3 separate regions of the Homo sapiens genome follow, and regions 1 and 3 are each linked to region 2. The links come from fine-mapping of genetic effects on gene expression. A gene starts in region 2. Each other region holds a variant in brackets. All regions are shown on one strand. Distances are between the middles of the regions. Region 1 holds the start of PAK2 (p21 (RAC1) activated kinase 2). Region 2 holds the start of CEP19 (centrosomal protein 19). Region 3 has its middle 24 kb from the start of CEP19.

Region 1 (8,182 bases), 24 kb after region 2:
AAGTATAAACTTTCCCAGTGTTTTTCATTGAACTTTATCTTCAAAACCAAATAGAAAATAGAAACTGAGTTGAATGTAGGAGCTTTTCCATTGCTAGTCATAGTAAAGGCCACATCCAGCTGTACAATATGGGAATAACAAGGCTTTAAAAGCTATCTGGGGAGAGAAAGGCAAATGGGAATGAAAGAATAATTTAGTTTTTTGTTGTTTTAATGTTTTTCCTCTAAGTCTTCAATTTAGAGAGAATTCTGTATTCTAATTTGAAACATGGTAAGAGGAAGTAAATGTTTATATTGATTACAGAGGTGACACTGGGATATAGCTTTTCTTAAAATAATATACTTTATGTAAAAAGCAGAAAAATCAGAACTAATGAGATTTAACAAATTATTGTGGGAATTGAGTCTGATTCTGTAACATTAAATGAAATGTTAGATTCAAAAGTCATTCAAACCAATAATATTACATGTAGTGTAGCACTGGCTGAAATATATTTAAAAGAAAAAGGAAATAAAAATATCCAATTAAAAATCAAAGAAATAGTGGTCTCACCTTATGACATTTATTTTATTTTACTATTTTTATTTATTTATTTATTTATTTGAGACAGAGTCTTCCTCTGTCTCCCAGGCTGGAGTACAGTGGCACGATCTCAGCTCACTGCAAACCTCCGCCTCCCGGGTTCAAGTGATTGTTCTGTCTTAGCCTCCCTAGTAGCTGGGACTACAGGCACCTGCCACCACACCTGGCTAATTTTTGTATTTTTAGTAGAGATGGTTTAGTAGAGATGTTGGCCAGGCTGGTTTTGAACTCCTGACCTCAAGCGATCTGCCCGCCTTGGCCTCCCGAAGTGCTGGGATTACAGGCATGAGCTACCACACCGGGCCCATGACATGCATTTTCAATGTCTAACTTCTCTCTCTCTCTCCATAGGTATATAAGAATGTGATTCTACAAGTTCCAGTGGGACTGACTGTACATACCTCTCTAGTATGTTCTGTGACTCTGCTCATTACAATCCTGTGCTCTACATTGATCCTTGTAGCAGTTTTCAAATATGGCCATTTTTCCCTATAAGTTTTATGTAGTTAAATGCTTCCTAGAAACCTAAATAAGATCTATTAATTTCTGACGAGAGGTGTTCTTCTAGAATTAATTACTTTTATCTTTTGTCTTCATTTGTGGCCAAAATTATGTTTACTAGAGGAAATTTGGGATCATTCTCAGCTAATTCCAAAATGTAGTGCTCTATTGCATGGATCCTTGGTAATCCTCAAGCATCAGATGCCATAAGGGGAAACTTAATTCTGCTAAATTAATGTTTATTTTGTGAGAAGTGACTTTATCTTCATTTGGGGTAGAAAAATTATTTCTTTATGTAGTAGAGACAAATTATTCTCATTTTGCAAGTACTTTCAATTTAAGCTACAAATTGAGAAAACCGTTATAAATAAGAATAAAATAGGCCAGGCACAGTGGCTCACACCTGTAATCCCAGCACTTTGGGAGGCCGAGGTGGGCGGATCACCAGAGGTCAAGAGTTTGAGACCAGCTTGGTGAAACCCTGTCTCTACTAAAAATACAAAAGTTAGCTGGGGCTGGTGGTGGGCATCTGTAGTCCCAGCTAATTGGAAGGGTGAGGCGGGAGGATCGCTTGAACCTGGGAGGCGGAGGTTCCAGAGAGCCAAGATCGCACCACTGCACTACAGCCTGGGCGACAGAACGAGACCCTGTCTCCAAAGGAAAAACAAAAAAGAAGAATAAAATAATTTGGATGAAAATCATGTTTATTTAAATAGTAATGTCATGAGACTATTAAAGATGTGCCAGAGTTTCAATGAAAATCATTAAAGTAGGACAGCTAAGAAATTAATATTAATATCAAAATTATTGATAATCTTAAATTATTGATTATTCCTTAACGCACTCCATTCTCCTTTTACATTTTATCATGTTTCTTTTGAATATATGAATTGGCAAAGGACTTGATGAAACTGAGTACTAAGATTTGGTACAGAGTATGTCAGGAAGACAACTCAGATTGCCATTTTAAATAAAGTTGTACATGAACAATAATTGGAATCATCAGGTAATTTTTTTAAACAAAGGTTCTTCATTTACTGTTATGATTGGAAAAAAATTAGAAAATAAAGTAAGTGCCATAGGCTAATTAAAAAATAAAACCTTGGCCGGGCGCGGTGGCTTACGCCTATAATCCCAGCACTTTGGGAGGCCGAGACGGGCAGATCACGAGGTCAGGAGATTGAGACCATCCTGGCTAACACGGTGAAACCCCATCTCTACTAAAAATACAAAAAAATGAGCCGGGTATGGTGGTGCATACCTGTAGTCCCAGCTACTCGGGAGGCTGAGGCAGGAGAATGGCATGAACCCGGAAGGCAGAGCTTGCAGTGAGCCGAGATCACGCCACTGCACTCCAGCCTGGGCGACAGAGTGAGACTCTGTCTCAAAAAAAAAAAAAAAAAAAAAAAAAAAAAAGTAAATAAAACCTTAGGGCAAGCATGTTCCAAAACAGAAGACATCAAACCAGGGTGTGTTGGCATTATTTATTTTATGTAGAGTATTGAGATGTGATAAACCTTTGTATATGCCATCACTGCTCCATTTCCTAAAGTATTTTGGTGTTTTCATGGGACTACATCTTGTATAATTTGACATGTATGACCTGACTAGTCCTAACAGTTCTTTTTAAACGTGTATTTGAGACTTAAATATTGGAAAAGGTAACCCAGTGCCATAAAGCAGAAACAGTGACCTTTAAAATGACTAAAATTTCAACCCAGTATAGTTTCATACCTATTTCATGCTTTCTCGTAAGAAAGAATTTCATGTTTTAGAAACATTTCTTTCACTATGGGATTAATAATATGACACTGAAATGGAATTATATATGTCAGCTACAATTCAGGCATTGTTTTGGGATATGGTTAGATTGACAGGCAACGTTTTGGAATATGGTTAGACGGGGAGGGAACACGGTACTGTTTAACATCTTAAGAGTATGTGGGGGTATGTGTATACAGAATGTTTTTGTTTTTGCTCATCACAACCAGGTTTCATCAGTATTTAAAATATTTAAGATTGTGGCTTGGAATGTGGTTCAGCCATTTACTCACTTATACAAATATTCAGAAGTGTAATAAAAATGTGAATGAAGAAAACTTTGATATAACTCTTCTTGCTTAGATAAATGGTTGCAGATGACATCACTTTTAGTATAACAGAACATTTCTGGTTTTGTTTGTATTATCTTGTAAACATGGCCAACATGGTGAAACCCCATCTCTACTAAAAATACAAAAAATTAGCCGGGAGTGGTGGCATGCGGCTGTAATCCCAGCTACTCGGGAGGCCGAGGCAGGAGAATCACTTGAACCCGGGAGGCAGAGGTTGCAGTGAGCCGAGATCGTACCACTGCACCCCAGCCTGGGCGACAGAGTGAGACTCCGTCACAAAAAAAAAAAAAAAAGGGAAAGAAAAAGAAAGAAATATACCTTTTAAGGAGTTCCTTTAGTGTGTCTCTGTTGGTAGCTTGTTTATGTTTGATGATATATTTATTTCATCCTCACTCATCTGATGGATAATTTAGGTAGTTGTACA[CT/C]TTTTTTTTTTTTTTTTTTTTTGAGACAGAGTCTTGCTCTGTCGTCCAGGCTGGAGTGCAGTGGTGTGATCCCTGCTCACTGCAACCTCTGCTTCCTGGGTTCAAGTGATTCTCCTGCCTCAGCCTACCAAGTAGCTGGGACTACAGGCGCACACCACCACACCCTGCTATTTTTTATATTTTTAGCAGAGACAGGGTTTTGCCGTTGTTGGCCAGGCTGGTCTTGAACTCCTGATCTCAGGTGATCTGCCCACCTCAGCCTCCTAAAGTGCTGGGATTACAGGTGTGAGCCACTGTGCCCAGCCGGTAGCTGTACACTTCTAAGCTTGGTTATTTTCTCTTGGTACTTTGAAAATATACCATTATTGACTGGCACCCGTTTTGCTGTTGTGAAATCTGCTATGAATGTAATAGTTGTTTGTACAGAATGTCTTTTCTCTCTGGTTGCTTTATCTCTGGTATTCTGCGGTTTCATTTTCATGTGTTTGAAATTTCTTTACTTATCCTGCTTGGTATTCAGTTTGCTTCCTGAATCTGAAGATTCCTGTCTTTAATCAATTCTGGAAATTTTTCAGCCATTATCTCATCATTATCTGCCTCTCTTGGTTTTTCTCTTTTCTCTCCTGGAATTCTCATTAGGAGTATGGTAGAGACCTTAACAATCTATCCCCATGTCTCTTAAGCTTGCTTTCATTTTTCCTGTCTCTAGGCTGTTCTCAGTAATTTCTTTTGGTCTGTCTTCCAGTTTACTAATTTTCTCTTCAATTGTGTGTAATCTGCTATTTAACCAAACATTGGCTTTGGTTTCAGTTATTCTTTGTTTCTAGAAATTCTACTTAATTCTTTTGTTGTTGTTGTTTTTGTTTTGAGACGGAGTTTTGCTCTTGTTGCCCAGGCTGGAGTGCAATGGCATGTTCTTGGCTTACTGCAACCTCCACCTCCCAGGTTCAAGTGATTCTCCTGCCTCAGCCTCCTGAGTAGGTGGGACTACAGGTGCCCACCACCACGCCTGGCTAATTTTTGCATTTTTAGTAGAGACTGGGGTTTCACCATGTTGGCCAGGCTGGTCTCGAACTCCTGACCTCGGGTGATCTGCCCACCTCGGCCTCCCAAACTGCTGGGATTACAGGTGTGAGCCACCGCGCCTGGCCTACTTATTTCATTTTCAAAGCTGTTTGGTCGTTAAAAAAAAAAAGCATCTTGTTTCTTGCTCGTGTTTTCTAGCTCCTGTCTTACTTTCTTTAATCATTTAAATAGGCGTACTGTATATTCTGTAGCCATCAATTCCAGCAGCTAAAGTCTGTGTGGGTTTCATTATGTTCTTTGTAGTTTCTATTGACTCACTCATCGCTGCTTATTTCCTCAGGTGTATTGTATTTCGGGTGCTCATGTTTGGCTTCGGAAATCCTGTTTATCTGTGAAATCCTTTGAGACCGAGGTTGAGGGTACACCTGTGCAGTCAGGATTTGTATTTGTTTCTTCCAGGCCCCCCAGAACTCCAGCCTGGGACCACTTTCTTGACAAATTTGAACTTTAAAACCTTAGTGAGGGAAAATTCTAAAGGGTTATTAATTCTAAAGGGAAAATTTTCTTCTGCCCTGCAAGCCCACTGCAGGCCAAAGTAAACAAATGTCCTGTGTGTCTCCCTGGGCTAGCATAGGGTTTTTTTTCCCCCCAGTCTGTTCTTGGAGGGTATAGCGCCTTGAATTTCCAGTCCTATGCAGGATCACAGTCCTGACTTCTTGTATAGGCCCAAGTCCTTGTCTTTAGTTTCCTGTGCACCTATTAAAACTCTAGAGATTTCTGAGATAAGTAGGTGCCCTCAACACAACCATGGCTTCACTGCCCTGCTTACCACTCTGGTGTCCTGCCCCTTCTTCAGGTTGAGTGTGAAATTTGGAAGACTGTCAGAAACATTCTATTTTCATTCTTGCAAGTTATGCCTTTGAAAGGATGTCTTATTTATCCAGTGTTTCTGTGTGTTTAATAATCAGAGCATTTTTCAGGTTATCTCTTACTGTGCCATGTTGCTCCTTGATTCCTTTCTCTCCTGTACCCACTGCATCAATTGAGTTTTTTGCTCTACATTGATAGAGAAGCACAATTCCTCTTTCTTTCCACTGCCTTCCTACTTTATTTCCCTTCTATTCTTGCATCTCTATACTCCATTATCCACATTGCAGTCTAGTGATCTTAAAGTGTAAGCCAGGTAACATCGCTTTCCTGCTTAAAAAAGCCTTTTAATGGTTTTTTGTAATATAGACTTTTTACCATGGCATTCAGGATCTTTCATGACCTGAATCTTGTCTGCTGTAGTGTTTTCTTAATAGTACCGCCTTCTTGTTCTAGGCCCCAGCTACACAGGCCTTCTTAACTGACCGTAGCAAGCCCTTTTCTTTCTTCTCCTGCCTGTATTGCTTTTCTCTGGGTGCTTCTTATTGCTGTCTCTTTCTGTTCTTGCCTTAAGTGTCACCTCCTTAACGAGGCCTTCTCCGACCACCCTATCCAAAGTAACCTCGCCAAGTTTTTTCTTATACCAGGTGTGACTACTTTAATTACTGCGTCCTCATATAAGCTCCACAAAGGCTTGGTGAATCGTGTTCACCCTTGCATTTCTTTTGTGTTTTTTGTTTTGTTTTTGAGGCATGACGACTCTGTCACGCTGAAGTGCAGTGGCCCGATCTTGGCTCACTGCAGCCTCCTCCTCCTGGGTTCAAGCGATTCTCCTGCCTTAGTCTCCCGAGTAGCTGGGACTACAGATGCGTGCCACCATGCCCAGCTAATTTTTGTATTTTTAGTAGAAACGGGGTTTCATCGTGTTGGCCAGGCTGGTCTCGAACTCCCGACCTCAGGTGATCCGCCTGCCTCAGCCTCCCAAAGTGCTGGGATTACAGGCGTGAGCCACCGCACCTGAACCACCCTTGTATTTCTGATGCTTAACAGTGTCTAGTCCATATCAGACACTCAAATATTTGTAGAATAAGTGAAACATTGATGAACTCCTCCGTGGATAAAATAGGGAAGTCTTAATTTGCAAGGAGGTGATACTTAATTTAGCAGCAAAATTTTAGTTAAGAATTTGTAAGCAAAAAAGCAAAATGGATAACGGATGAATTCCCAGAAACAAATGTCGCGGAGCAGATGTGTATAACAGCAATCGTCTGTCAGCGTCTTCCGTCGGCAGAGACCTGCTTGGAGACAATGCTGAATTAAATGAGGGACTGGCTGCTCCTCTCAATACAAAGACTACCCAAGGAATAAAAGCAACGTCTATCACCGAACTACTACTCCCAGCGGCCCCCGCGCGGGCCTGCCCATGGGAGGTGGCGCTCGTCTCCGCCCCGGGGAGCTCCGGCTTCGGGGCGGGAGGGGTTCTGGGTTCTGGCCCCGCCCCGCCCCGCTCCCCGCCGTCTTCCTCCCCCAGGGTTGTGGCCACGCGCAGCGGCGGCGGTTGTTCCGCTTCCCCTCCGGCCCGGGCCGTCGCCATTGCCGAAGGCTCCCTCCCCTCCCCTCCCTGGCGTGCGCAGGACTCCGCCGCCGCTGGGCCTAGCGGTAGCAGCGGCTGCTCCAGCGCGGCGTCTCTTCCCGCCCCGCTTCCCCTTCCCTCCCCTCCCCTCCCCGCACCGCGCGCTAGCCCGGGGCGGCTCCGCAGCCCGCCGGGAGCTCTGACCGAGGCGCCTCGCTGGGGCGGGGACCTTGCCTTGCCCGGGGTAAGTGCACACAGGCCGGCCGGCGCGGGACGCAGGCCGGGTCTCTTCCTCCTCCTTCCTTCTCCGTGGCCTGGCGGGCGGGAGCGGCCCGGGACGGCCGACCTGCCCCGCGCGGGGCCGGGGAGCCGCCACCTGCGTGCTGGGAGCCGCAGCTCCTGGGGCGGTGGCTCATTGTCTGCTCCCCAGGGCCGTTTTCTTCGCTGGCTTTAGCCAGAAATGGGAAGCTCGCTGGGCTGCGGAGGTCTGACTCTTCCTGGACCCAGCCCTGCTCTGAACCTCGCGGCACCACGGTCTCTGCCGACTCTCGGTCTTCCCTCCCCTCGCGTTTCACCCTCTTCCTTTGCTCCGTTTTCTTAATGCTGGACCAGACTCTCCGGTTTTGTTCCTTGATTTTTCCTCTCACTGATTCTCAGCCCCTGCTTGCTCGCTCTCTGTTCACCCGTTTCACTGCTCAGGAATATTGTCGCGAGTAGCTTGACTGTTTTCTCAGCTCCAGCCTGTAACCTCTTTTCCACATTCCACATTGGTAAAAACGTAGAGCGTCCCGGGCGCTTGAGGGCCACCGCTTACGAACTGATCTTTCGGAGCTTCTCCTCGCTCCTGTTTGAGCTTCAGCCTAGGGGTGAAATTTGCTTCTTTAGATAACTTAGGTGAAGTTAAGATTGGTTTTTCACCATGTTTGGCTCTCTTGGAAACACACGCACGCACAAACACAAAACGTTGCCACTCAACCTTTTAACTAATTCTTTAAAGATAAGTCATCCAAGAACAGAAGCGTGTCATCGTCAGTGGGTGTGAGGTTGTACCCATCCTTGTATCTTAATTTTAGTAGTACTCTCCCTGGGCAGTG
Region 2 (8,182 bases):
ACAAAGCTCAGTTATTTTGAGAACTGCCCTGAAAGTTCAGCTTGGCCCTGGGTTAGTTTCAACCTGTTGGATCCCTAAGATCTGGTTTTTTCAAGGATATAGACTTGTTCATATGTGAATCTGGGGATGCAATCCAGTTTGAACCTCTTAGTGTACTGCACTCTTACTGAAGATCGAATATGAACCCCTAAGTCAGCCCAATAGCTGACCTATAGGGTCTTTACTATTTATCAATTAAGAAAGGGCATATCGAGCATCCTCGGTATCAAGGTACTATGATAAGGTAAGTTTTTTAACCTTAATCATTTTGTCCTGAGAGGTTCACCAATCCAGAACTGTCTCCTTTGTACTTTCCCAATTATTTTACTAGAGTTTTTTGTCATTATTTATTTAATCATCTATCTTCCCTTCTAGTCAATATGCTCCATGAGGGTGGGGGGCATATTCATTTTCCACCACAATATCTCAGCATAATACCTGGAACGTAGTGGGCATTCCATACATTGTTTAATGCTATGAATTAACATGATGGTCCCTGTACATTTTTGAAAGCATTTACAGTCTAGAAGCCTGATCAAAAAGCAGACCTGCTGCAGAATCAGCTTCTTCATATACACGTCAGTAACGTCTGCAGCTACATCATATACATCACATATCTCAGCTTCTTCATATACAATAGTCAGTAATGTCTGCAGGGCTTTTATTTTGGCCTGTGTGTCTCACTATATGATAATTTTCTAGCTACAAGAAACAGCTATTTGTAGATGAATACTTACTATTCTCTCTTCCTTTCCCCACCCTCAGTGCCCAAAGAATACACTTAACCCTAAGCACTGCTTTTGATGTGACTGTGACATTCCCAGAAAGATTTGTAAATGTCAAGAAACATTGAGGTAAAGTGGCATAGGGTGATGATATCTTCGTGAACTCAGTTCTGCTGGAGAATCACTATTAGGAACATACTTTTTATTAAATACTTAGCAGTGATTATACACGTCATTGTAGAATACTGGGGGCAAAGGAGAGGGGAAACCTATAGAAAATAATCACCCTTGATTGTGTCCAGTCTTTTTTCTAGGCATATAGTTTATAGTATGTTTCATACATACCTTATCATACAAGCTATTTCCTGACGTTCAAATTTAACAACATATATTATTATTTTGTCATCAAATGTTTTACTACAATGTAACATTTTATATGACTGCTAAATGTTTTATTTTATGGATGTACTATAATCATATTATTCACCACTTATTGTTGGGCATGAGAATTTTTACTCTTAGAAAATTAATCACATATAAGCCCAGGCACAGTGGCTCACCCCAGCCAGCACTTTGGGAGGTCAAGGTGGGCAGATCATTTGAGGTCAGGAGTTCGAGACCAGCCTGGCCAACATGGTGAAAACCACGTCTGTACTAAAAATACAAAAATTAGCTGGACATAGTGGCAGGTGCCTGTAATCCCAGCTACTCGAGAGGCCAAGGCAGGAGAATCACTTGAACCTGGGAGGCGGAGGTTGCAGTGAGCTGAGATGGTACCACTGCACTCCAGCATGGGTGACAAGAGCAAGACTCCATCTCAAAAAGATGGAGGCAGGTGTGGTGGCTCAGGCCTGTAATCCCAACACTTTGGGAGGCCAAGGAGAGGAGATACCTTGAGGCCAGGAGTTTGAGACCAGCCTGGGCAACACAGCGAGACCATGCATGTCTCTACAAAAAATTTAAAAATTGGCCAGGCATGGCAGCATGCACCTGTAGTCCCAGCCACACCAAAGGCCAAGGTGGGAGAATCGCCTGAACCCAGGAGTTTGGGGCTGCAGTGAGTTGAGATGGTGCCACTGCACAACAGCCTCTCCAAAGCATGATACGCCTATTCTTAAAAAAAAAAAAAAAAAAAAAAAAAACTACTTTAAAAAATTACTGTGCTCTACCTCTAATCTGATGCAATGAGCTCACACCATTTCTCCTTCTTTTCCTTCTCTTTTCTTGCTTTTTTTTTTTTTTTAACGAATACTATTCCCAATTCACCTAACTAAAATTTGATGTTAGTAAACTACAACCTACGGGGCACATATAAACTCCACACACTGAAGCAATGGCTGTACTCGTCAAAGATGTATGCAGTTGGTACTCAAATAATGTAGTTTTTTTTTTACTAGACTCTTTTTAAAATTTAACTTTAATTTTTGCTAAAGTAATGTTTGTATTTGGAATATAAAATAATTCTATGAGGCTTATAACAACAAACTATCGTCCTTGGCCCTACTCCTCTTCATAGGGAGCCAGACTGAATTTTAAAAGGCATATCTTCCAAAATTTCTCTCTCCATTTCTTAAGAAACATGCTTATACTACCATTTTCAGTTTTTTTTTTTCTTTTGAAACAGAGTCTCCCTCTGTCGCCTAGGCTGCAGTGCAGTGGCGTGATCTCCCCTCGCTGCAACCTCCGCCTCCTGGGTTCAAGCGATTCTCGTGCCTCAGCCTCCCGAGTAGCTGGAATTACAGGTGCCTACCACCATGCCCAGCTAATCTTTGTATTTTCAGTAGAGACGGGGTTTCGCCATCTTGGCCAGGCTGGTCTCGAACTCCTGACCTCAGGTGATTCGCCCAAAGTGCTGGGGCTATAGGCGTGAGCCACCTGCCCGGCTATTTTCAGTTTTGGATAGTATGTTTTGACATACACTCTGTTTCCTCTTTGAGACACCCGCTCTAGAGCCCTCTATTCCACTCCAAGCCGCCTGGATGCTCTCTTGGCCTGCTTACAGATTCCACTCTGTTTAGGAAGAAGGACGGCACGTTTATCCAATTATTCTTCCTGGACACGAATACTCCTCTCCCCAGAGATCAGTAACTGCCCACAATCTTGTTAGGAAGCCCCACAGCACCTAAGGGTACGAATGTCCCCAAAGAGTAGACGATTCTCTCCCTACTCACGTCTCCACTAGTGCAAGGCTGGCTTTCTTACCCTTAGAGGAATACAGAAATGACATCGTCTGCAGGCCAACGTCTAAACAACCAGGAGTGGGTTTTTCCACCCAACCGCAGTGCACGCAAAGCCCCTAAGCCGACTGTGAGACCGGGCGGAGCCTGGCGCTGCAGGAAGAGGCGACAGCCACAGCCCTACTGACGAGCCCGAGGGGTGAACTCCCCGGCGGGAGGCCCGAACCCTCAAACACCGGGAAGCGGAGGTGGGGGCCGGCTGGGGGACCGGTCCACCGGCTCCCACCTCGGCGTACAGGGATTCCAGGTCCCGGCGAGCGCTGGCCTAGCGGTTTCCACAGCGACAGGCCGGGCGCGCGTCCCCGCGCGTGCGCAGCTCCTCGCCCGCCCCCGGGTGGGCGGAGCAAGGAACAGCTGGGCGGGGACGACCGCCCCACGCCGCGCGGGAACCCTTGGGGGCCGGGGCTGCAGGCAGCTGGGAACCGCGGGCGCTAGGCGCGCGCACCCAGCACTCGGTCCCAGCCGATAAATCTGGGGCAGCGCGCGGTAGGAGCTGCGGGCGGCCAGGCCCCTTCCTGCGTCCGCACCTGGCCCCGCGCGCCCCTCTCGGGCGTCCGGCTTCCGGCGTCCTGGCGGCTCGGGTGGCGGCGGTTCGGGCGGCCGCCTGGCTGCTCCTCGGGGCGGCGACCGGGCTCACGCGCGGGCCCGCCGCGGCCTTCACCGCCGCGCGCTCTGACGCCGGTAAGGGGGGCGGGGCTTGGGGGGCCAGAGCGTGGGAGCGGTCCCGGCTCCCGGGCCTCTCGGCGGGTTGCGGGGATGTGGGGACCCGGCGCGGGACCTAGATCAGTAGGGCGAGCCGGAGGAGGTCAGACACTAGAGCCGTGTGCCCTCCTTCCCTCCCGTGCGCTTTGCTCTGCGGCGGATCCCGGGTCTCCGGGAGAGTCGGGCTCGGGCCCTGCGGTTCCCAGGCTGGACTGGCCGCCCTGTTACTAAAGTTCTGAGAAGGAAAGTCAGCCGTCAAGCGTCTTGGGATGCTCTTGAGCTGCACGAAGCTTCTGATCACCAAGGGGCCAGGCAAGGCCTTAGCGCCCTGTGAGGCCTGAGAATCCCCAAACTGAATGTAGGACTCCGTGGCAAACTGCTAGTTGTTCGTGCAAGTAGTAGTTGGCAAACTGCTTGTACTACTGAGACGGGCAAGTGCGGGAATAATTACAATAAAGGGTAAGGTTTGATGGGAGGAAAGCACAAACCCTACAAGTTTCTCCATCTGTAAAATGAGGATGTTTCTGTCATCCTTGGTATCATTTAGATCCGTTTAGTATCTGTCAATCAGTGCAGTTCTGCTTGTGTGTTTACATATTGGGTTTTCAAGTTTATCTAAACAAAGGATTATGAGGCCAAGAAGATTTTTTTTTTGAGATGGAGTCTCACTCTGTTGCCAGGCTGGAGTGCAATGGCGCGATCTCGGCTCACTGCAACCTCCGCCTTTCCCAAGTTCAAGCAATTCTTCTGCTTCAGCCTCCCAAGTAGCTGGGATTATTACAGGTGCCCGCCACCATGCCCAGCTAATTTTTTGTATTTTTAGTAGAGACGGGGTTTCGCCGTATTGGTCAAGCTGGTCTTGAACTCCTGACCTCAGGTGGTCCACCCTCCTCAGCCTCCCAAAGTGCCAGGATTACAGGTGTGAACTACCATGCTCGGCCAGAAGAATTTTTAAACAGTTGGATTTGGTAATCTGTAGAGGCTTCCAACGTTAGCATTTTATAATTGAAAAGGGGTCAAAATTAGCGGGGCGTGATGGCGTGCCCCTGTAGTCCCAGCTACTCAGGGGGCTAAGGCAGGAGAATCGCTTGAACTAGGGAGGCGGAGGTTGCAGTGAGCCGAGATCGCGCCATTGCACTCCAGCCTGGGTGACAGAGGGAGACTCTGTCTCAAAAAAAAAAAAAAAAAGGAAAAAGAAGTCAATTTCCAGAGCCAGTTCACCACTACCAAAGTAATAGTTAAGAGGAAAAATGTTGAAGGTAAATTCACATTCAACAAATTCGTTTTAAAAATGGTACTTTTGCCTTTAAAATCATGACATTCTAGTATTTGCTGTACTATTTGTAAATTAGCCTTTCTCCGGTCCCAATGATCAACTGCTGTCTGGTGTACATACCAGTAGAATTTAAGCCTGTTCATAATTTTTCTTCTAATTTAATTTATAGTTGGATAGCAGTCCTCACTTCCCACCCTACCCCCATTAAAATTAAACAGGATGAAGAAAGATCTGGATTTGTGCTGGGCACAGTGGCTCACACCTGAAATTCTAACACATTGGGAGGCTGAGGTGGAAGGATTGCTTGAGGCCAAGAGTTCAAGACCAGCCTGGAAAACATAGCAAGACCCTGTCTCTGCAAAAAAATTTAAAAGTAGCCAGGTGTGGTGGCGTGGGCCTATAATCCTAGCTACTTGGGAGGCCGATGTGGGAGGATTGCTTGAGCTCAGAAGTTCAAGGCTGCAGTGAGCTGTGATCATGCCACTGCATTCCAGCTTGTGTGACAGAGTAAGGCCCTGTCTCTTTTTTTTTTTTTTTTTTTGAGACGGAGTCTTGCTCTCTTGCCAGGCTAGTGCAGTGGCGCAATCTCGGCTTATTGCAACCTTCACCTCCCAGGTTCAAGCGATTCTCCTGCCTCAGCCTCCCAAGTAGCGGGAACTACAGGTGCACACCACGACGCCCGGCTAATTTTTTGTATTTTAGTAAAGACGGGGTTTCACCATGTTGGCCAGGTTGGTCTTAAACTGTTGACCTTGTGATCTGCCTGCCTCCCCCTCCCAAAGTGCTGGGATTACAGGCATGAGTCACTGCACCCAGGCTATTTGTTCTTTTTTTTAAGAGGCAGAGCCTTGCTCGGCTGGGCGCTGTGGCCCATGCCTGTAATCCCAGCATTTTGGAAGGCCAGGGTGGGCAGATCACCAGGTCAGGAGATCGAGACCAGCCTGGCCAACGTGGTGAAACTCCATCTCTACTAAAAATACAAGAATTAGCCGGGCGTAGTGGCGCGTGCCTGTAGTCCCAGCTACTCTGGAGGCTGAGGCAGGAGAATTGCTTGAACCTGGGAGGCAGAGGTTGCAGTGAGCCAAGATCGTGCAACTGCAGTGCAGCCTGGCAACAGAGTGAGACTCCGTCTCAAAAAATAAATAAATAAATAAATAAAAATAAAAAAAGAACAAATAAAAATCTGGATTGGTACAAGATACATATGGAATTTGGGGATTTGTTTATTCAGGAAAAGATCATATGCTTCTCCAAAGCAAATACAATTTCTTTTTTGAGGGCTGGAGATTTTTCAGTGAAATGTAACTAGACAAATTCTCGAAGAGCTGTAACACTAAAATTTCATTCAATTTTAGTGTTGAAAGTGGAAGTATCTTAGGCTTTAAAAATCAGGCAAACCTTTCTTCTAATCGGTCACGTAGTTAGTTGTATGACCCAGGGCCATTTACTAATGCTTTAGAAGTTCAAGTTTCCTCCTGCAAACAAATGGCAGTGATTTTGCTTATTTTGCTATAGATCGTGAAAGTTAAAACACATATGAAAGCACCAAGTAGAGGATCTAGCATGTTAGATATTATTTAACCAGTTATTTTTTTCTATTCTTTTTTCATTCCTTCAAATAGTTTCACCTTCACATCATTTTTCTTAATGCATCTTTTCAGAAATACATCTAATGGATTCAGCAATATTCAATGATAATAACAGGATTATGTAAATAATATATAGTTTTCTGTATGTGTTTGGGGTTTGTTTGTTTGTTTTGAGACAAGGTCTGGCTTTGTCACCCAGGCTGGAGTGCAGTGGTGCAGTCTCTGCTCACTGCAGCCTCCCTCTGCCTCCTGGCCTCAAGCCATGCTCCCACCTCAGCCTCCTAAGTAGCTAATTTTTGTATTTTTCTTAATGGAGATGGAGTCTTGCTATGTTGTCCAGGCTTGTGTGTGTTTTTTAAATGTTCTTCCCACAGATTTACAGCTTTTGAAATGGGACAAAGTTCCATAGCAAATGCCTGGCAGAGTTGCTGGTCAATAGTAACTGAATTTTCAGTTTTAAGATGCTTACATTGAGTAATAGTTTTCTTTTTTTGTGTTTAGAGACAAGGTCTCTCTCTGTCACCCAGGCTTGAGTGCAGTGGTATAATCATAGCTCACTGAAGCCCCCATCCCCTGGGTTCAAGCAATCCTCCCACCTCAAGTGCGAGCTGGCACACCTGGCTCAGAGTAACAGCTTGAGTGTCTGGAATCTGGATGAAGTCAGTATACTGAGATTTGTGCTTATTCTAAGTTTACAGTGGAACCCGTTGAACCTTTACGTGCCTCCAGCTTTGCTTTTTGTTTTTTTTTTAAACCTTCCAGCATCTCCACAAGGCATAAATGTACCATTTTCCTGGTTTTGTAGGCATGGATGTTAGAATATAGAAGTTGCCAGTATGTATCTATCTGATACACAGTTTCAGTGAACAAGGATTAAAATGGAGATTTCCTGGCTCTTTAGCCATCCTGTTCCTTTTTGGTATCTTGGGATCACCTGAATAAAGTAATATTAATAAAAAACACTTACATAGAACACTTAATATGTATTCTTACTACTGTTCTAAGTGCTTCTACTTACATTAAATTCTTACGACAGCTAGTAGAGAGATAAACTATCTTGCCCAAAGTTAACACAGCTGTTAAGTTACAGACTGGGATTTGAAATCAGGCAATCTAACTCCAGAGTCACTGTTCTTAACCACAGTGCTATATTGGAAGTAGATTTATATATATATTTCAAATTGCTTAAATTTTAAAAGGTTTTGTTTTTAGGTTGGTTAGATTTTCTAGGCAAGTAAAGCCTACTAAAATAACTCTTTTATAATTATTTAAATATTATTTTATTCAGTGCTTTTGTTTTTAAAAAAAAATCGTTTGGTTCTTATAGGCATAAGGGCCATGTGTTCTGAAATTATTTTGAGGCAAGAAGTTTTGAAAGATGGTTTCCACAGGTAAGTTGCCTGTTGATTTCTATTTCTATTAAAATAATGTGTCATATAATTGAGAGCAAAAAATTGATGGTTGAAATTTGTATAAATTGAAAAATCAGGCCAGATGCGGTGGCTCTCATCTGTAATCCCAACACTTTGGGAGGCCGAGGCAGGCGGATCACAAGGTCAGGAGTTTGATACCAGCCTGGCCAACATAGTGAAACGCTGTCTCTACTAAAAATAC
Region 3 (8,182 bases), 25 kb before region 2:
ATTACAGGCTTGAGCCACCGCGCCTGGCCAAGGTTTTCTTAATGGAGGGACATAAAGTCGATATTAGTCGAAAGGGGCAAGTCCCCCTCTTTTACAATGGACACAGAGCTGAAAAGACTATGAGTGACAAAAACTGGTGATAAGTGAAACACAAAACAGGAAAATAGAAGGAGTTACAGTAACATTGTTTGAAGTGTTTTGTTTTTGTTTGAGACGGAGTCTTGCTCTGTCACCCAGGCTGGAGTGCAGTGGTGCGATCTCGGCTCACTGCAACCTCCATCTCCCGGGTTCAAGCGATTCTCCTGCCTCAGCCTCCTGAGTGGCTGGGATTACAGGTGTTCACCACAATGCCCGTATTTTTGTATTTTTAGTAGAGATGGGGTTTCACCACGGTGGCCAGGTTGGTCTCGAACTCCTGACCTCAGGTGATCCGCCTGCCTCGGCCTTCCAAAGTGTTGTGATCACAGGCGTGAGCCACCGCGCCTGGCCTGTTTGAAGTTTTCTTAATGTATTGCATTTAATCAAAGAGGATTGTAAAATGTTTTTAAACTCAGGTGAGCTCTGAAAGTGCCTAGTCCTTGTATTTACCCAAACCAGTGTTTAACTCCTGCCACTGCCACTCACAAAATGCTGGATTGCCTACCACTTACTTCACTCTGCTCCTTGGTTTCTTAATCTGTATAATAGGATCAGAAATTCTTCTGTGAGGAAATTCGGAAAGGAAAACCCAAACGTAGCAGAGACAATGGACATTGGCACCCTTCTGCCCCCTGGTGGTAATTTTTAGAACCATGTGGGCAGTGGCGAGGCTAAAAATAAAATGTGCAAAGTGTAAAACAAAAACCACGCAGTGTCTTCCTTGTCATGCACAGCCGCGTTCGAATCGCTCATTGTCTTGCCTCCTCAGTGCTTTCTCCCGCCCACGACTATCAGTGGTCCAACCACACATTGCAGGAAGTTCCAGGAGTCATCCACTTACCCTAGAGCAAGCTTGTCCCACCTGCTGCCCGCGGGCTGCATGTGGCCCAGGTGGCTTTGAATGCAGCCCAACACAAATTGATAAGCTTTTTTTTGTGACTTTTTTTTTTTTTAGTTCATCAGCTATCATTAGTGTTAGTGTATTTTTTAATGTATGGCCCAAGACAATTCTTCTTTTAATGTGGGGAGAAAAAAGATTGGACACCCCTACCCTAGAGGAATGATAGTGTTTAGTATTTGTTTTCATTCTTATTTTCCTTCTCCTCTATATCGCATGGATTGTGGAGCGTGTCCATGTCTTCAGGTCATCAGCATGACTTTTAGGGGAGGTGACTACAGAGTCAAAGCCATGGGAGATGCGGAATTCAGCTGAAGATCACTTAAACATCCAGCACCGCTGTAGCACTAGTCATAGAAAGAATATGAAGAGAATTCAAGATTAAACAGATTGGCCAGGCGCGGTGGCTCAGGCCTGTAATCCCAGCACTTTGGGAGGCCGAGGCAGGCGGATCACCTGAGGTCAGGAGTTAGAAACCAGCCTGGCCAACATGGTGAAACCCATCTCTATTAAAAGTACAAAAAATTTAGCCGGGTGTGGTGGCACATGCCTGTAATCCCAGCTACTCGGGAGGCTGAGGCAGGAGAATCGCTTGAACCCGGGAGGCAGAGGTTGCAGTGAGCCGAGATTGTGCCACTGCACTCCAGCCTGGACGACAGATCAAGACTCTGTCTGGAAAAAAAAAAAAAAAAGATTGAGCAAAGCAGTCAATAGATTAATTGGATTTAATTAAGTGATGAAAGAATTGAGTAATGGAACTTCACCCATTCTAACCATGTGATAAAGTAGAAAAGGTTCAAAGATTTAGTAGGGGTTTAAAATGAGTTTAAGAGAATGGGATTACAATTCCAATCCCATTGGTAAGACAAATTTTATTTCTAAAAATTCATGTATTTCCCCCCTTTATACAACTGCAAATGCGAGTTTGGAGCTAGAGTGGGAGAGGAAAGCAAAGAATGAAGGGAAAGAAATAGGAGGAAGATTCTAGAAATGGGGGCAGCATGGGAGAAGTGGTGGGAGCAAAGTCCTGGCATATAGATGCCACAATCAAAACTTCTGCCCTGTTTCCTAGCTGCTTGGTGTCAGCACTGGGGCCATTCCCCCAGCCTGTGACCTTGGCATCCCCTATGTTGACCTGGGCTCTTCCTCTGTCCTTCCACCTGGATGTCCTTTAGTGGGTCCTGGCCAGGGTCCTATTGCTCCCTTTAACCTCTGGAGCTTTTGTCTGCTACATTTTCTTACACTGATGCTGACTCAGACCTAATGCTGGGTGAAGTTGTGATGTGGCTGAAGTGTCTGGGTGTAATTCAAGAATCCTCGAGGGAGAATCAGGAGTTTTGGGTTCCGGTTCCAACTTGGTAATTTACCAAGTCACAGCCTCCTGGAGCCTGGTTTTCCCTATCAATAAAATGAAGAAATCTGTCTTCTCTAGTTCATAAGTTGTCAAGATCAAATGTGTAAATACATAGGAAGTTCTTAGGAAAGGGAAGGCTTCTATCACTGTAAAGAAGTATCATTGATAACTAGTATATGATAGTCTGCTGCCGTCTGCCTTCCCCATATGTACCCTATCATGCTCTGAGTCCCTCCTTCCTGCCTTTTCCCCATCTCTTATCACAACCTGCTTTTTGTATGTGATTGCTATTTACACCTTGATAATATTAAATCAGAGATATACACAATTAAATTTGAGATAGTTACGCCTTGTCCAGAAATATTCACATATTAAGCTTGATCGCTATTTGGGTGGTAAAAAGTTAGTCCTTGTTCAAGAAATGTTAACCAACAGTTTGGGGTAGGAGGGAGAAGTGAGGCTTTCCTTGTGTTCTGAAATCACTATATTTCATGCCTGAATTAGCCTGTCTGAGCTGGAATTCAGAGTGAATCTTTGGATCCATGTTTTAAAGGGACAACTATAGAGACTCCCATTGCTTTTTCTATGCACATAGTTTTTGTGCGGTTTTTACTGGAATCTTATTACAGTTACAGTTACCATCCCATGGACCAACATGGTCCATCGAGGGCCTTGCAGTGAGAGGGTCAGTCCATAGATGCTGGAGCCACATGACGTGGGTTCAAATTTCAACTCTCCCACTTATTAGTGTGTGACCTTGGACAGGCTGCTTCACTGCTCCGGCCCTCAGTTTTCTAATTTGCAAAATGGGGGAGATTAATAATACCTATCTCCAGAGGTTTGTTGGGAGGATTAAATAATAGGCCTAAAACACCTAGAGCAGTGTCTGGCACTGAGTACACATTAGCTGGAATTTATTTCAATTGCATGTTTGAAAAAATTTAAACCATTCAGAAATTTAATTTTAAAAATAAAAAATGAAAAGTCACTTAAGCTCTCTATCTCCCACTTTAACCCCACTCCTCTTTCCACAGGCAAACTGTTAACAGTCACTTTGCACACATCATTCAAGAGTTTTGTTTTGTTTTTGTTTTTGTTTTGAGACTGAGTTTTGCTCTTGTTGCCCAGGCTGGAGTGCAATGGTGTGATCTCGGCTCACTGCAACCTCTGCCTCCCAGGCTCAAGCGATTCTCCTGCCTCAGCCTCCCGAGTAGCTGGGATTAAAGGCATGCGCCACCACGCCCGGCTAAATTTTGTATTTTTAGTAGAGATGGGGTTTCTACATGTTGGTTAGGCTGGTCTCAAACTCCTGCCCTCAGGTGATCCGCCCGCCTCGGCCTCCCAAAGTCCTGGGATCACAGGTGTGAGCCACTGCACCTGGCCTCATTCAAGAGTTTTTACTGATATATTTTTTAAATCAAAGAATTATAATATACTATTTGGCAACTTGTTTTCCTCACTTAACCATGTAGCTAGGAGTTATTTCCAGGTCACTATGCCCAGTGCTACCTTCTTCTGCCTAAGGGTTTCATAGTATGCCGCAGCATGGACACTGCGCAATTCACTTAACCAATGTCTTATTGATGGATATTTGGAGTGTTTCCAGTTTTCGATATTTGGAGTGTTTCCAGTTTTCCACGATCATATTCGCTTTTTGCACATTCTTTTCTCTTTATAATTCAGAACCATCAAGCTGAAGCCCAGCAGGGCTTCCTCATTTCATCATCATAGCTCATTTCCTATTGAGCAAAGCTTCTTCCTCGGGTCAGCTCTTGCCACACTTCTTTCTACAGAAACAA[G/C]AAGTGGAGTTATCTGTCCTGGGCTTCGGGAGTGAACACACCCATTCCCACGCTGCTGCTGCCCACGCTGCTTTGCCCACACAGCACCACTGTCCCTGGGGATCCTGAATAACAATCTGCTGAGCAAAATCAACATCCCTTTGGCTACAGCGAGGCTAATTGCACTTAATAGGTTGTAAGAGTTCTGGTACAGACAGGCTCCTTCCCATGATGTATTTCACCACCTCATTGAAGAGATGTGTGTTCCAGTGAGAGTCTGTTCCTCCGTGTCATCCCAACAAATGCTCCTATGTCCAGGAGCCATTGTCAGGAATGCTCGTTCCTCTCCCTTCTACACAGACAAATCTCCCTTTGAGGACACACTCAACTCCAACTCCTTTTGTGAAGCTTTCCCTGTTGCTCCAGCCTGCATGAATCCTTCCCTCCGCCGAATTTCTTCAGCAAGAATGCCTTCTAGGCCAGGCACGGTGGCTCATGCCTGTAATCCCAGCACTTTGGGAGGCCGAGGCGGGCAGATCACCTGAGGTCGGGAGTTCGAGACCAGCCTGACCAACATGGAGAAACCCTGTCTCTACTAAAATACAAAATTAGCTGGGTGTGGTGGTGTGTGCCTATAATCCTAGCTACTCAGGAGGCTGAGGCAGGAGAATCACTTGAACCCGGGAGGCGGAGGCGGAGGTTGTGGTGAGCTGAGATGGCGCCACTGCACTCCAGCCTGGGCAACAAGAGCGAAACTCCATCTGAAAAAAAAAAAAAAAAAAAAAAAAAGAATGCCTTCTAAGTGCATAGCACCTGTGTGAGGGTGAAACCCTGGCCCACAGAGCCAGTGGTCGTAGGATAGTTAAAATAGAAGGCCACAGTATATTGGGAGGCCAAGGCGGGCGGATCACGAGGTCAGGAGATCGAGACCATCCTGGCTAACATGGTGAAACCCCGTCTCTACTAAAAATACAAGAAATTAGCCGGGCGTGGTGGCGGGCGCCTGTAGTCCCAGCTACTCGGGAGGCTGAGGCAGGAGAATGGCGTGAACCTGGGAGGCGGGGCTTGCAGTGAGCAGAGATCGTGCCACTGCACTCCAGCCTGGGCGACAGAGCAAGACTCCGTCTCAAAAAAAAAAAAAAAAAGGCCATAGTATATCAGAATTCCATAGAAATAAGATTATTACAAAAAGCCTATAAGCAGAGAGACACTGGAATATACTGAAGCTAGTATGAGCAAAAGGGAATTGTGGGTTGGAACACCAATACCCACAGCAACAGTGAAGGAAAGCAAAAGCCTCGCACAGCGCTTCTCAAAGTGTGGTCTGGGGGCTTGTTAGAAATGCAATTTCTTGGCCAGGCGCAGTGGCTCACACCTGTAATCCCAGCACTTTGGGAGGCCAAGGCAGGCGGATCACCTGAGGTCAGGAGTTCAAGACCAGCCTGGCCAACACGGCAAAACCCTGTCCCTACTAAAAATATAAAAATTAGCCAGGCGTGGTGGCACACGTCTGTAATCCCAGCTACTCAGGAGGCTGAGACAGGATAATTGCTTAAACCTGGGAGGTGGGAGTTGCAGTGAGCTGAGATTGCGCCACTGCACTCCAGGCTGGGTGACAAGAGCGAGACTCTATCTCAAACAAATTAAAAAAAGAAAAAGGAAAATAAATGCAAATTCTTAGGCTCCACCCCAGACTTACTGAATCAGAAATTCTGGGGGTGGAACGCAGCAATCTGCGCTATCGTGAGTCCCACAGATGAGTCTGGTGCATGCTGAAGTCTAAGAACCACTAGCTTGAGTAGAGATTCAAAGTTTGGGTCTCTAGCACAGAAAGACTTTTGCAACAACGAGTCTCGGGAGGCGTAAAGCAAGCAGAGAGGACTGCAGCTGTTAAAAGTAGTCCTAAGAAGATTCTAGGTAGGAGAACTCAAGCGTGGGGAGCTGGGAAACCCCAGCTGGCAGGGAGGGGTCCTACCTGGCGAGCTGCCCCCCAAGGGCCTGCGCTGGTCAAGTGTCTCCCGAAGGGTCTGCCTGCGGGCAGGAGAAACACAGGTGTCCAGGACTAGTGTTCTGACTGATACGTGGCCCTAGGATTTCTCTCCTGGGACCACTTGGAGAGGCAACCCTTGGCTGCCAGAGGAAGAGACTGATGGAGGCAGCAGGACGGGAGGAAGGCCTGTGGGAGGAGGGTGCCAGAGTGGGAAGGGAGCATGTGAGGAGAGTCTTGATGGTTAATGCCAATTACCTCTAGAAAATTACCAGGCTTTACAGACTCAAGAGCTACTACCCAAAAGATTGAAAAAACTGCCTTAAAAAAAAAAAAAGCAACCCACCCCAGGGAAGAGAGAGAGCTATTTAGAAAACTCCAGAAGTAAATAAGCTCAGACAAATCTGAGATTTATCTGGTCTCTGCTCCTGAGTCCTGTCTGAGAATCAGGCACCTAAGAGACGGGGTGTTGTGTCCACCAGAGACGGTGGAGAGGCCGGGCACGGTGGCTCACACCTGTAATCCCAGCACTTCGGGAGGCCGAGGTGGGCAGATCACCTGAGGTCAGGAGTTCAAGACCAGCCTGGCCAAGGTGGTGAGACTCTGTCTCTTCTAAAAATACAAAAATTAGCCAGACTTGGTGGCGCACACCTGTAATCCCAGCTACTCGGGAGGCTGAGGCAGGAGAATCGCTTGAACCCGGGAGGCAGAGGATGCAGTAAGCCAAGATCACGCCATTGCACTCCAGCCTGGGTGACAGAGCGAGACTCCATCTCAAAAAAGAAAAGAGATAGCGAAGAAAGCCATCATCTCTGGTGGTTTGCAGGTTTGATTTTCATAGCAGAACCCTTAATGAAGATCTCAAGTAGAACTCTGAAATGGGAAAAACTTCAACATGTAAGAATTGAGCTGCTGTGGATAAATTAGGAGTCCAGTTCCCACCTCCTTATTCTTTTTATCACTCAGAACAATGACCACTTTTACACCCGACCCCAACCCTAGCTCCCCAGGATGCTGCTCCACAGAAGGCAGCTTGAAAAACGCCAATGGTTAACCTCTCTGGTGCCTTGCTGGGCTGCTGTAGGGACAGCGGGGTCACTGCTTCACAAAGTCACCCTTCCCGTTGCTGGCGGTTTTGATCTTCAGAGAGTTCTGTCTTTTCTTTTTTCTTCTTCTTCTTTTTTTTTTTTTTTCTGAGGCGGAGTTTTATGCTTTTCCCCCAGGCTAGAGTGTGCAATGGCGTGATCTGGGCTTGCTGCAACCTCTGTCTCCTGGGTTCAAGTGATTCTCCTGCCTCAGCCTCCCGAGTAACTGGAATTACAGGTGCACACAACCACGCCCAGCTAATTTTTGGATTTTTAGTAGAGACGGGGTTTCACCATGTTGGCCAGGCTAGTCTCGAACTCCTGACCTCAAGTGATCCACCCTCCTTGGCCTCCCAAAGTGCTGAGATTACAGGCGTGAGCCACCGCGCCTGGCCAGAAAGTTCTGTCTTTTCTTGAGGTGAGAGCTGCTCCCTAAATTTCCAATCACTGTGCCTAGTTTTTCCCTCTAGAAGTAGTAATATATTCTTCTACGTGAAAGATCTGTAAAGAACTAAAGAGCTTTAAGAGCAATCTTTTAACTTTTGCCTTTTCCAGGCAAAAATCTCATCACTTCTTGCAAAGGATTCTCATGTGACATGGTCACTCTCTGTGGGACACACTCCAGTTTGTCAACATCTTTTAAAATGAGGCTCCTGGAAGAAAACATGGCTCCAGACAGGATCTGATCAGGACCTTTCCCCCATCTGAGCACTAACCCTCAATTAATGTAGCGTAGGCTTACATTAGCTTTCTGGGCAGCCAGTCCACAGAGTGTTCATACTGCGACTGCTGCCAATTGGATGCCCTCTGTCTGTTTCACGTTGTTTTTAGGTTAACTGTTTCCTGTCCTGTGCTCTTGCAGTTGGCATTTCTTAATGCAAGTCATGGACTTTACTTGTGTCTCCATAATATCTTGTCCTGTAGGTGTTAGTCCAGTCACTC

What was found. PIP is the estimated chance that this variant, and not a neighbour inherited with it, causes the effect.
Region 1: its variant is fine-mapped to the expression of CEP19 in neutrophils (Naranbhai 2015, PIP 0.91).
Region 3: its variant is fine-mapped to the expression of CEP19 in whole blood (TOPMed, PIP above 0.99).

The regions. Positions count from the first base shown.
Region 1 is chr3:196,732,826-196,741,007 of GRCh38, forward strand. PIGX (phosphatidylinositol glycan anchor biosynthesis class X) reads left to right here. Exons shown (of 6, transcript NM_017861.4): 6 at 934-3,182. The coding sequence ends at 1,077. It overlaps PAK2 (p21 (RAC1) activated kinase 2), which reads left to right and starts at 7,032. Exons shown (of 15, transcript NM_002577.4): 1 at 7,032-7,332. RefSeq lists a silencer at 6,823-7,612. The variant CT/C (reference allele first, on the strand shown) is at 3,622.
Region 2 is chr3:196,708,963-196,717,144 of GRCh38, forward strand. It overlaps CEP19 (centrosomal protein 19), which reads right to left and starts at 3,288. Exons shown (of 3, transcript NM_032898.5): 1 at 2,967-3,288. It overlaps PIGX (phosphatidylinositol glycan anchor biosynthesis class X), which reads left to right and starts at 3,415. Exons shown (of 6, transcript NM_017861.4): 1 at 3,415-3,682; 2 at 7,896-7,959. The coding sequence starts at 3,571. It also overlaps the pseudogene RNU6-646P. RefSeq lists silencers at 3,038-3,350, 3,185-3,814.
Region 3 is chr3:196,684,295-196,692,476 of GRCh38, forward strand. No RefSeq gene overlaps it. Among named protein-coding and RNA genes, the nearest start is that of CEP19, 24 kb to the right of the region's middle. The variant G/C (reference allele first, on the strand shown) is at 4,190.